3 linked regions of the Homo sapiens genome follow. The protein of the gene in region 2 interacts with the protein of the main gene of each other region in a biochemical or structural test. Each region holds a gene or a part of one and is shown on either strand. Other genes may lie near its edges.

Evidence for each region.
Region 1: the proteins of ARL2 (region 2) and TBCD form a complex in vitro, tested with the Homo sapiens proteins (2 studies listed by BioGRID and IntAct).
Region 3: the proteins of ARL2 (region 2) and BSND interact in a biophysical measurement, tested with the Homo sapiens proteins (one study listed by IntAct).

The regions. Positions count from the first base shown.
Region 1 is NC_000017.11:82,749,870-82,753,615, reverse strand, and holds the start of TBCD (tubulin-specific chaperone D), read right to left. Parts: upstream 1,552-3,746; 5' UTR 1,423-1,551; coding exon 1,239-1,422; intron 1,125-1,238; exon of another isoform or gene 862-1,124; intron 1-861. Other genes in the region: FN3K (fructosamine-3-kinase), read right to left, coding at 2,861-3,199.
Region 2 is NC_000011.10:65,017,085-65,020,830, forward strand, and holds part of ARL2 (ADP-ribosylation factor-like protein 2), read left to right. Parts: intron 1-1,279; coding exon 1,280-1,390; intron 1,391-1,420; exon of another isoform or gene 1,421-1,486; coding exon 1,487-1,649; intron 1,650-3,334; coding exon 3,335-3,415; intron 3,416-3,746. UniProt on the Homo sapiens protein: Small GTP-binding protein which cycles between an inactive GDP-bound and an active GTP-bound form, and the rate of cycling is regulated by guanine nucleotide exchange factors (GEF) and GTPase-activating proteins (GAP).
Region 3 is NC_000001.11:55,001,787-55,005,532, reverse strand, and holds part of BSND (barttin), read right to left. Parts: intron 512-3,746; coding exon 417-511; intron 1-416.

The sequences.
Region 1 (3,746 bases), on a different chromosome or scaffold from region 2:
GCGTGGTGGCGCGCGCCTGTAGCCCCAGCTACTCGGGAGGCTAAGACAGGAGAATAGCTTGAACCTGAGAGGTTGAGGTTGCAGTGAGCCAAGATCGCACCACTGCACTGCACTCCAGCCTGGGCAACAGAGCAAGACTTCGTATCAAAAAAAAAAAAAAAAAAAAAAGGAAGAAGCCATTGGGCTGTTACACCAGGAACAAAAAATCTGGCTTCACTGGTCCCTGGATGAGGGTCCCTCACCCTCAGAACAGTTCTGCACGAGAGGCATCGTTATCCGCCCCAGCTTACACCCGAAGAAACAGGCAATCAAGTATCAGGTCCAAGCGACAGGGCCAGAATTCACAGGCAGGAGGATCTGACGCCGAACCCGCACTCCTCCCACAAGGCCCCCCACCCTGCCTGACTCCTAAAATCAAAGCGCTGTCATTCTAAAATGAGGAAGGCCAAATAATGCAAAAGTTCTTCTTACTCAAAGGGTCTACAAAGATGATTTTACTGAATTACAAAACCCCATGTAACTACTTAGCTATGAGCTCCTAAGGACTTGTTTGGAAATAACCCATTATAGACAGCGGTAAAGGTGGGTCTGAACTCGGAGAATTTAGACTCATCGAATGGCCTCCACAGGGGTACCTACACCCCACCCCGCCTGCAGAGGCACGGACCCGGCCAGCCCGCTCTGTCCACGGCGTCCACGGAACGGACAGGCTGCTGCCCTCCCCACCCGAGGCGCGCTTTGTTTGCAGCAGGTTTGTTCCCTGCGTCCCCCTCTCTCATTCCCTATCTCCCTGTCCACACAACATTCACAGAAACCGCGCTCGGTGGAGGCAAGCCTGGGAGTCCACACTGCAGGGCTGACCAGCTGTCCGGAGGGGTCTGGCCCGAGTCTCCCCAGCCCAGGGACCTCCTCCAGTGACGGAGACGGGGGACGGAGGGCTTCTGCACCCCGCCTCCCGGGGAGGCCGCAGAGGCTTCACCCCGTGCGAGAGCAGGCGCTCCGCGGGCCACGGTCCCCCCAAGGGAGGCGCGCGTCTGCCCCGTGCACCTAACGCCGCGCCGGGGTGGCCCTCTCCCGCCTAGGAAGGCCGCGCCCCACCACGGCCCGCGGGACCGCGCACCGGCAGCCCTCGCAGAGCGGCCGGCGCCGCCGGGCTGCGGTCCCCGCCCGGTAAAGTGCACTCAGCGCGCCGAACCCGGGCCGGGGGAGGAAGCGGGCACGCGGCGCCGCCCACGCACCGCGGAACCGCTCCAGGGCCACCTCGCGCTCCGCGCCGCCGCCGTGCACCTCCCGCAGGCGGCCCAGCAGCGCCCGGGTCTCCGCGCTCTCGCCGAACGCTTCCAGCGCCGCGCCAAAGGCCAGTGTCTCGTCCTCCGCCTCCTCCTCGGGGCCGCCCGCGGCCGGTTCGTCGCTCAGGGCCATCTCGGCAGCCTGGGGACCGCGCCCCCGCCTCACGTGTTCGCAGATCCCACTCCGCTAGAGCGCGAAAGCCAGGGATGAAGGATGAGGGATGAAAAGGAGGCGCCCGCTAAGGCGGCAACCGACGCTGGCCCCGCCCCGCGACCTCCGACCCCACTCGCCGGCCTCGCTACGGAACGCGTCGGCCGCCAAAATACCGCGCGCGGGACGGCGCGTGCACTTGAGGACGCGAGCGGGCACGGGTCCCAAAGGCTCTGGAAGAGCGCGCCGTGGACCCCACAGGGCGCGAGCGGAGCCGGGACCGCTCAGCGGGGCCTGAGCACGCGGTGGGCGGGGCAGGACAGGAGGTGGGGCCTGAGACGCGGTGGGCCGGGCTGCGGGGTGAGGCCGCCGCCGGAGGACAGCGGGGCGGAGCCTGAGCAGGCGGTGTGCGGGGGGGCGGGGCTTCGGGATGGGGCCGGGGGCCGCCAGGGCGGGGCTTGAGCACGCGATAGGGGGCGGGGCTGCGCGCAACGGGGGCGGGGCCCGGGCACGCGTGGGTGGGAGGGGCAGGGCTTGCGGTGGGGCCGGAGACAGCGGGGCGGAGCCACAACACGCCGGGGGGCGGGGCGGGGGCGGGGCGGGGGCGGGTGGGACCGGGGGACCGCGGAGCGGGGCGGAGCCTCAGCATGCGTGGACGGGGAGGGGCGGGGCCTGAGCACGCAGTCGGGGGCGCGAGGCGAGCCCCGGGACCCACCCCTCAGAGCCAACCGCCCTGACACTTATTCGCGCCACGCTGGGACCCGCGCGGATCACACGGGCCCCGCGCCGAGTGGTGGCGCGCCCCAGAGCGGGAGCGGGAGCGGGGCCCGGAGGCCGCGGTGGGCGCTGCGCCGACTTTGGCCTTGGCTACCGGGTCCGCGTGCGTTTCCCCTGAATCGCCGCAAAAACGTCCGTGCACAGCTCGCCGTGCGTCTGGCCCTGAAAGCAGCCCCACGAGCGGAGGAACGAGGCGCAGGACGCCAGCCGAGACCCGCTGCGGGCTTTATTGGTCCCCAGGATCTGGGAGGGGTCGGGGGAAGGGGGACAGGGACAGGGGGGACGGGGACGGGGGACGGGGACGGGGGGACGGCGATGGGAGACGGGGATGGAGGATGGGGACGGGGGAACGGAGACGGGGACGGGGCAGGGGGGACGGGGACGGAGATGGGGGACGGGGATGGGGGGTCGGGGACAGGGGGATTGGTATGTGGACAGGGGGACAGGGGGACGGGGGACAGGGATGGAGGGACGGGGACGGGGGGACGGGGACAGGAGGATGGGGGGACGGGGGGATGGAGACGGAGGGACGGGGAGACGGGAACAGGGGGACAGGGACGGGGGCACAGGGACGGGGGACGGGGGGACAGGGACGGGGAGACGGAGACGGGGACGGGGACAGGGGAAGGGAGGGCAGGGGCCGCTACTTGAGCAGCCTTCGCATGGTGCCCAAGGAAGGGCTCCTGTACTCCCGCCCGAAGTGGTTCCAGTGGTTCAGGTAGTTAAACAGCTGGTAGAGCAGCAGCCGCTGGTCGAAGCCCGGAGCCTTGGGGATCTTCCGGTGGTAGGCGGTGAAGAAGGATCTGGGGAACCCCCCAAACATCAAGGCGATTGCCAGTTCAAACTCGGAATGGCCATAGAAGGAAGCCGGGTCGTAAATAATGGGCCCCACGTCGTCCTCAGCCACGTTTCCCGACCAGAGATCCCCGTGGAGCAACGCGGGGACAATCTCTAGGCCACAAAACAGATCCGGGATCTTCACCTACGAGAGCAACGGCTGCAGTTATCGCTGGCCTCTGGGAGCCCCGGTCTCATCACCTCGTTCTTGGAAATAAGGCAAAGCCCACTCGCGATCTGCTTCGGTGTCCAGCCCCAGCACTGCCTGCCAAGCCCAGAAATAGGGGCCACCTGACTTCAGGGGAGTCTAGCTTTGTCTAACTTAGGATTTCCTCCTAATTTAGGTCTAGAATCCCCACACAGTGGAGAACCTCTGAGGTTATAGTTTTAATCGACCCACAGAATAGGAACCAGTGTTGCGCTACCTTAGCAAACTCTGGCCACTTTTATTTCGCTACACATATATGTCTGCAGGTTTTGTTTGGTTTTGTTGTTTTTTTCTTTGAGAGGGAATCTTGCTCTGTCACCCAGGCTGGAGTGCAGTGGCGCCATCTCGGCTCACTGCAACCTCCGCCTCCCGGATTCAAGTGATTCTCCTGCCTCAGCCTACTGAGTAGCTGGGATTACAGGCACCCGCCACTACACCCGGCTAATTTTTGTATTTTTAGTAGAGATGGGGTTTCACCATATTG
Region 2 (3,746 bases):
CAAGAAGGCAGAAATGGGGGTGAGCACAAACAACTATTTTGAGATTTCCTGTAAAAGGAAAGATATAAATGAATAACTAGATGGGGCAGAGAGATCAAGGGCTTTGTTTGCTCTTTTTTTTTTTTTAATCAGACGGGGTCTCGCTGAGTCGCCCAGGCTGGAGTACAGTGGTGTGATCTCGGCTCATTGCAACCTCTGCCTGCCGGGTTCAAGCAATTCTCCTGTCTCAGCCTCCCGAGTAGCTGGGACTATAGGGGCCCGCCACCACGCCTGGCTGATTTTTGTAGTTTTAGTAGAGATGGGGTTTCACCTTGTTGGTCAGGCTGGTTTCGAACTCCTGACCTCAGATGATCCACCCACCTTGGCCTCCCAAAGTGCTGGGATTACAGGTGTGAGCCACCGCGCCCGGCCTATTTGCTCTTTTTAAGGTGGGAGAAAGAACGGCAAGCTCATCAGCCAGTGGGAATGATCAAGAGGGGAAGGAAACATGGATGATGGCTTGGGGGCAGGGGGTCATCAGCGGCTAGGTTCCAGGGGCTAAGGCTGGGCCTCAGGGGAAATGCCCTCCTCACCCCTCTCCTGGGCCTAGGTCATTTGCCCCAGCTCCGATGAGCAGGGAAAGGTGGTCGAGTCCAGGACCCGCCCACCCCACCATGCCCAACTGAGCTGCAGTGTTGGGAAGATAGAGGAGGGTGGTTCCTTCCACAGGTAAGCACACCCATTAATTTGCACTGTGCAGTAGCAGGTCTGGAATATTCCAGAAACAAATGAGGGTGGCTGCCTCCAGATATTTGTTCTTACCTTAGTTCTTCAAAAAGCTTGCTCCTTGTATTTTGGGTCTCAGCTCCAGACACCTCAGAGAGGCCTTCCCCGGCACCTGAGCTGAAAGAGCCTCCTCCGATGGCCCTCTTGGAAAGCCTCTCTGTTGTGTTGATGGCGCTAGCCGGGATCTGGCAGGGCCTTCTTTTCTCATTTGTTTGTACTTTATTGACTGTCTTCCCGCTAGAGTGTAAGCTTCCTAAGGGCAGGGCTTTGTCCTCTAGCACCCAGAAGAGGGTCTGGCACATAGTAGGTGTTCAACAAATTAAGGAGCCTTTGGTCAGTAGAGATGATATTTATAATTTGATACTTTCATATTTATTGTGGGCCGATTATGGTCAGGCATGTGCTCAACTCAGTTTGATACATGGTGGGAAATAATGAGTCCCCTAAGGGGCTCTGCAACAATGTCACCACCTGGCAGAGAACAGGGACTTCTCCTTAACCTGCTGCGCCCCAGTGGCCTGGACAATGCTGGAAAGACAACCATCCTGAAGAAGTTCAATGGGGAGGACATCGACACCATCTCCCCAACGCTGGGCTTCAACATCAAGACCCTGGAGCACCGAGGGTGAGCAGGGGCCCCATGGGAGGGCCAGCCCAGAGCAGGGCAGGGAAGGTGGGAGAGGGGCCCAGCTGACCCTCCTGTCACCCGCTCCTTGCCCAGATTCAAGCTGAACATCTGGGATGTGGGTGGCCAGAAGTCCCTGCGGTCCTACTGGCGGAACTACTTTGAGAGCACCGATGGCCTCATCTGGGTAGTGGACAGCGCAGACCGCCAGCGCATGCAGGACTGCCAGCGGGAGCTCCAGAGCCTGCTGGTGGAGGAGGTGGGCAGCTCCTACCCTTTGTGTACATGTATGGACGTGTGGCTGCCTTCTCAGCAGATGCCCAGAGGGGCCCGTGGCCCCAGAGGGAAACCAGAGGCAGGATCCCTTCCTTCTCTGGGCCCCCACCATGGGAGGCCCATGGTGCCAGAGGCAGGACACATGCTGTGGACTGAGATTGAGTTAACGTCCCTGTGGTGTTACTACGTCACTACCCTGAGCATCAGTTTCTATGCCTTGAAATGGTGATGATGACACCCACATCACTGGGCTTTAGGGAGGATAACCCAAGGCCAGTATGAAGCTTCGAGAGGCCATGGAGCCTGGCTCAAGAGTCTGACTCTTTGCTGTGTGACCTCAGCTGGGGGTGGTGGCACGCACCTATAGTCCTAGCTACTCTGGAGGCTCAGACAGGAGGATCAGTTGAGCCCAGGAGGTTGAGGCTGCAGTGAGCTGTGATCGTGCCACTGCACTCCAGCCTCCTGGGCGACAGAGCAAGACCCTGTCTCAAAAAAAAAAAAAAAGGAAGGGGCCAGGTGCGGTGGCTCACGCCTGTAATCCCAGCACTTTGGGAGGCTGAAGCGGGCGGATCACGAGGTCAGGAGATCGAGACCGTCCTGGCTAACATGGTGAAACCCCGTGTCTACTAAAAATACAAAAAATTAGCCAGGCATGGTGGCGGGCGCCTGTAGTCCCAGCTACTCAGGAGGCTGAGGCAGGAAAATGGCGTGAACCTGGGAGGCGGAGCTTGCAGTGAGCCGAGATTGTGCCACTGCACTCCAGCCTGGGCAACAGAGTGAGACTCCGTCTCAAAAAAAAAAAAGAAGGACACTTGCAAAGATAGTACAGAGGTCAGAGGTCCCCCATATACCCTTTACCTTGCTTCCCCATCTTACCTAACCGTGGCCTGTCCAAACTAATAAATCAACACTGGTGAATTACTATTATCTTAATTACAGATTTTATTTGAATTTCACGTTTTTCCACTAATATACTTTTTGTGTTCCAATGTTTGATTCAGGCTACAAAATTGCATTTAGTTGAAAATGAGGACACTTGTGAGAGTGAAAGGGGGGATTCTGCAGGCAGAGTGGGGACTGTCCTGGGCACACCGCACACATCTCCTATGTGGGTGGAGCAGGTCAGATGAGATCAGGGCCGTCAAATGCTGGTCAAGGCAGGTCAAGGCCCAAGGGTTAGACCCGTCCACCCACATCTCTCCCAATCACAGACACATATGTGGAAACAACTAGAATCAGAGGTGGACAGTGAGGCCTGTCGGGAGTGGAACGGTTAAAGGGCTGTGTGAACCCAGAAGAGGGAGAGTTCACATCCTCTGTGCATGTCTGGTCATCAGATTGGAGCAGTCTAGAACCACGGAGAGCTCAGGGATCATCTTATGCAACACCCCTCCCTGTTCATGGAAGAGGAAGCTGGAGCATGGGGACAGCGGTGTCCCCTGGGTGGTGGTTGGCTGGAACCAGAACCCTGGCCCAGGGCTGCTCCATTCATGTGGGCCAGCCTTGATGGCTACGTCCACAAACTCACTCCTGGGCCTCTCCCACCACCACGGGGCCTCACCTTGATCTTCCAGGTCGATCCTTCACCCCAGATGCTCTGGGCCATTAGAGGAGGGGTCAGGCTGTCCTCTGAGTCCCCACCCCACCCCTCTATCTTTTCTCCCCCAGCGCCTGGCCGGAGCAACCCTCCTCATCTTTGCTAATAAGCAGGACCTGCCTGGAGCACTGTCCTCTAACGCCATCCGCGAGGTGAGTCCAGGCCCCGGGACAGGCTCGCTGAGGGAAAGGGGCATACATTTATTTATTTTAAAAGCATTTATTAAAAATAACCAAAAAGGCTGGGTGCAGTGGCTCACGCCTGTAATACCAGCACTTTGGGAGGCCAAGGCGAGTGGATCACCTGAGGTCAGGAGTTCGAGACCAGCCTGACCAACATGATGAAACCCCGTCTGTACTAAAAATACAAAAATTAGCTGGGTGCAGTGGCGTGCGCCTGTAAGCCCAGCTACTCAGGAGGCTGAGACAGGAGAATCGCTTGAACCCAGGACGTGGAGGTTGCAGTGAGCCAAGATTGCGCCAT
Region 3 (3,746 bases), on a different chromosome or scaffold from region 2:
TGCTGGAAGTCAGGCAGCGAGTAGGCGGCAAAGCCCTGAGGCTGAGCCTTGGCCACCACCATGCCTCTTGTTTGTCAGTAGTAGAAGCACTTACTCCTGTGACTCTATTGCACTGTATTTCTCACAGTACATTTATTTCATTGTATGATTTGTTTCATGGAGATCTTGTATTCACCGAAACACTGTCTCGTCCCTGACAAGACAAAGTCCCTGGGCCTCAGTTTCCTCATCTGTACAATGGGAATAATAATGCCTAACTCACAGAATTGAGAGTTGAAAACAGTCCATAATTTCTAATACATTCTCAGTAAGTGAGAAGGCAAACAGCCTTCCTGCCCTCCCTCTCACTCTCCTCAGTCAGGGGAGACTGGCCTATGGGGCTTACTCCTCCCCTCCCGAGAGGGCCTGGCACCTACCTCTTCATCTCGGCAGCAAGCCCATTCTCCAGCAGGCCCATGGCCTTTGGGGAGAGGATGCCTTGAAAGTCAGAGTCAGCAGGGACGAAGGTGATCTGCAAGCAAAGGAGAGACAGCCTCTGTGCAGTTGACCAGGGTAGGGGGGCTACTGTCCCCTCAGGGAATTGGCAAACCTCTCCATGAGCTCTGGGAGACAGGCTGCACCACGGAGGCCTCCCTGCTTGACAGGAGAGGGGCCTACTTGGGGCACAGCACCAGCGGGAGGATGGACCTCTGTGCTCCTGCTCCCTTCCTGGTTCTTCATTCACTCTACAAACATTTATTATCTGCTGTGTGCAGGCACTGTCGCAGGCACTAGGAGCAGCAAGGAGTGAAAGAGAACCCTGTCCTTGAGGAGCTCACATCTTTTCATTTCCCAGGGGTCTTCGTCCAGTGCCCAGCACAAGCCTGGCACATAGTAGGTGCTTCATCCATATTTGGTGAATGAGTGGAAAGCAAGTCATTGTCATGTGTTTTTGCCACATGGGCTGCAGTGGGTGACAGAGAAGTTATGCCCGCCAGTCCCTGTCCCTGAACTTTCAGGAATCAAGAGGTCTCTGCAAGTCCAGCCCTAGGTGGGCACTGCGTGGTGCAGTCGGAGGCAGATCATGAAGGAGGCAGTGGGTGAGGGAGAGGAGCTGTGCCTGTGGGATCTGGGAGATGGGGTGAGGATCCCTCCTCTGCCAGATTCTCACTGTGGGCCCTAGGCAGGTCATCTCTCTTCGCAGTCTCTCTGTGCTCCTCTGTATAACGGGGCTACCCTCGAAGAGATACTTGCACAGCCATGTTCAGAGCAGCAGTATTCACAAGAGCCAAGAGGTAGATGCAACCCAAGTATCCACTGATGAATGAATGGATAAACAAAATATAGTCTATCCATATGATGAAATACTATTCAGCCTTAAGGATGGAACTTCTGACACATGCTACAACATCACTGAACCTCGAGGACATTATGCTGAGCAGAAAGACAAATACTGTATGATTCTACTTTTCTGAGGCACCTGGAATAGTCAAATCCATAGAGCCAGAAAGAAGAAAGATGGTTGCCAGGGGCTAGAGAGTGGGATAATGGGGAATTGTGATTTAATGGGTATAGAGTTTTAGCTTTACAAGACAAAAAGCATTCTGGAAATTGGTTGGATGACAATGTGAATGTACTTAGCTGTACTGTACACTTAAATATGTTTAAGACACTAACTTTTATGTTACGTGTATTTTACCATGAGTTTTAAAATGGGGCTAGTTACGCCAGTCTCCTGAGGTTGCTGTGAAAATTTCATGAGATCATATATAGGGAATCCCTCAGCATGGTCCCCAGCACATAGTAACTACTCAGTAAATCATAACTTGATGCTATTGATGATTCAGTTGTCTGACTTCTCTGAGTCTTGCTCTCCTCGGCTGAAAATTTTTCCAATAAATATTTGTTGAGACCCCACTGTATTATACCAGATTCATAAATAGCACTTCCCTATTCCCCTTCCCATAGAGCAAAGTGAGTAGAAGACACTTGTCTGCACTAGGAAAGCTCCATTCTGATGGGGAGAAGGGAATGATGGATGGAGGGGGCCTTTGTACTCCTATGAGGAGTGCGCTTTCTCTAGATGTCCAGAAATAAAACAGAGCTCCTGGGCAATGAAGAAAGACGCTGTCTCTACAAAAAAAATAAAAAAATTAAATAACAAATTTAGCTGGATGTGGTGGTGTGAGCCTGTCATCCCAGCTACTTGGGAGACTGAGGCAGGAGGATTGGTTGATCCCAGGAGTTCGAGGCTGCAGTGAGCTATGATTGCACCTCTGCACTCCAGCCTAGGTGACAGACTGAGCTCCTGTCTCTTAAAAACAAAAAAGAAAAGGAAAGAAATAAGGCAGGGGCCTGGGCTTCTTCCACCCCCGTTAAGGATGCTTTGTACTTCCCAGCTAGTACTGTACTTCCTAGAAGCTGCCTCTTCCTCTGCCTCATTACCTCATGGCCCAGTCAGCACCATCATCATCACCGTCACCATCATCATCACCGTCACCATCATCATCACTATCATCATCATCATCATCATCACCATTGTCACCATCACCATCCTCACCATCATTATCACTATTATCATCATCACCATTATCACCATTACCATTCTCACCATCACCATCCTCATCATCACCATCTCCTAATCACCATAATCATCACCATTGTCACCATCACCATCCTCACCATCATCATCTCATAATCACCATCTTTACCATCATCATTCTTATCAGCACCATCACTAACATCATCATCATCATCATCACCATCACCATTCTCACCCTCACTATCCCCACTGCACTCTCATTATCACCATCATATCATCATCACCACCCTTAGGAAAAGCTTGGAGAAGGAAAGGATGGGGCATCTTAAAATGCAAGTTTTTTGATGAGGAGGGACAGGCAGAGTTGAAGCTGGAGAGAGGATATCAGACCATGGAGACCACCAGAACACCAAACTAAGAAGCTTAGCCTTTCTCCAGATGCAATGGGGAGTCCTGAAGGACTCTCAGCAAGAGAGTACACTGTCAGATTTGTGTTTAGGCAGAACACTGAGCAATCTCCAGAGAGAGGGAGGCCACCAGTCAGGACCCTGGTCCTGGTCTCCAGCACAGCAGGCAGGAGTGAGGAATGGGGGATGCGTGGGCAGAGACCCTGCTCTCCCTGCCACTCCTTTCCCTGCTCACAGCTCCCCTGCCCCATCTTCACTAATGGGCTCAGCACCTCCAACTGTCCCATCCACTAGATTTGCCCTGATCCCTTCTCCTCTCTCATGCCTGAGGCCCAGCTGACCACCAAATCTGACCAGGTCTACTTCAGAAATTCAATAAGATAACCTGGGTGGAAGTGCTGGTGCTATGCCTAGCCACAACGGGTACTCTATGTGAAGTGAACTGTAAATGTCACCTTAGTTCCTACAGCTTTGTGTTTGAATTCTGCATTATTCCAGATGACTGTCAGCTCTCACCAAGACCAGAGAAGAAGCCTCCCCACTGGTATGGCTGCCCCCAGACCTTCCTTCTTCTGGATGTCTTTCTCAAACTGCAAAGCTGGTCGTGTCCCATTAACTAAAGGACAAGCTCCAAATTCCTTACCATGGCATCCCAGGCCCTGAAGAGTTGAGCCCCACTCCCTCGCTACCTTTACCTTCCTCCCCTCTGCCTCTCGTAGCCACAATGGCCCACTTGCCTTATTCTTTTACCACATTGCTTTGATCATGCTACTCTTCTGCCTGGAATGTCTTTCCCCATCTTCTCTGCTTGGTGAACT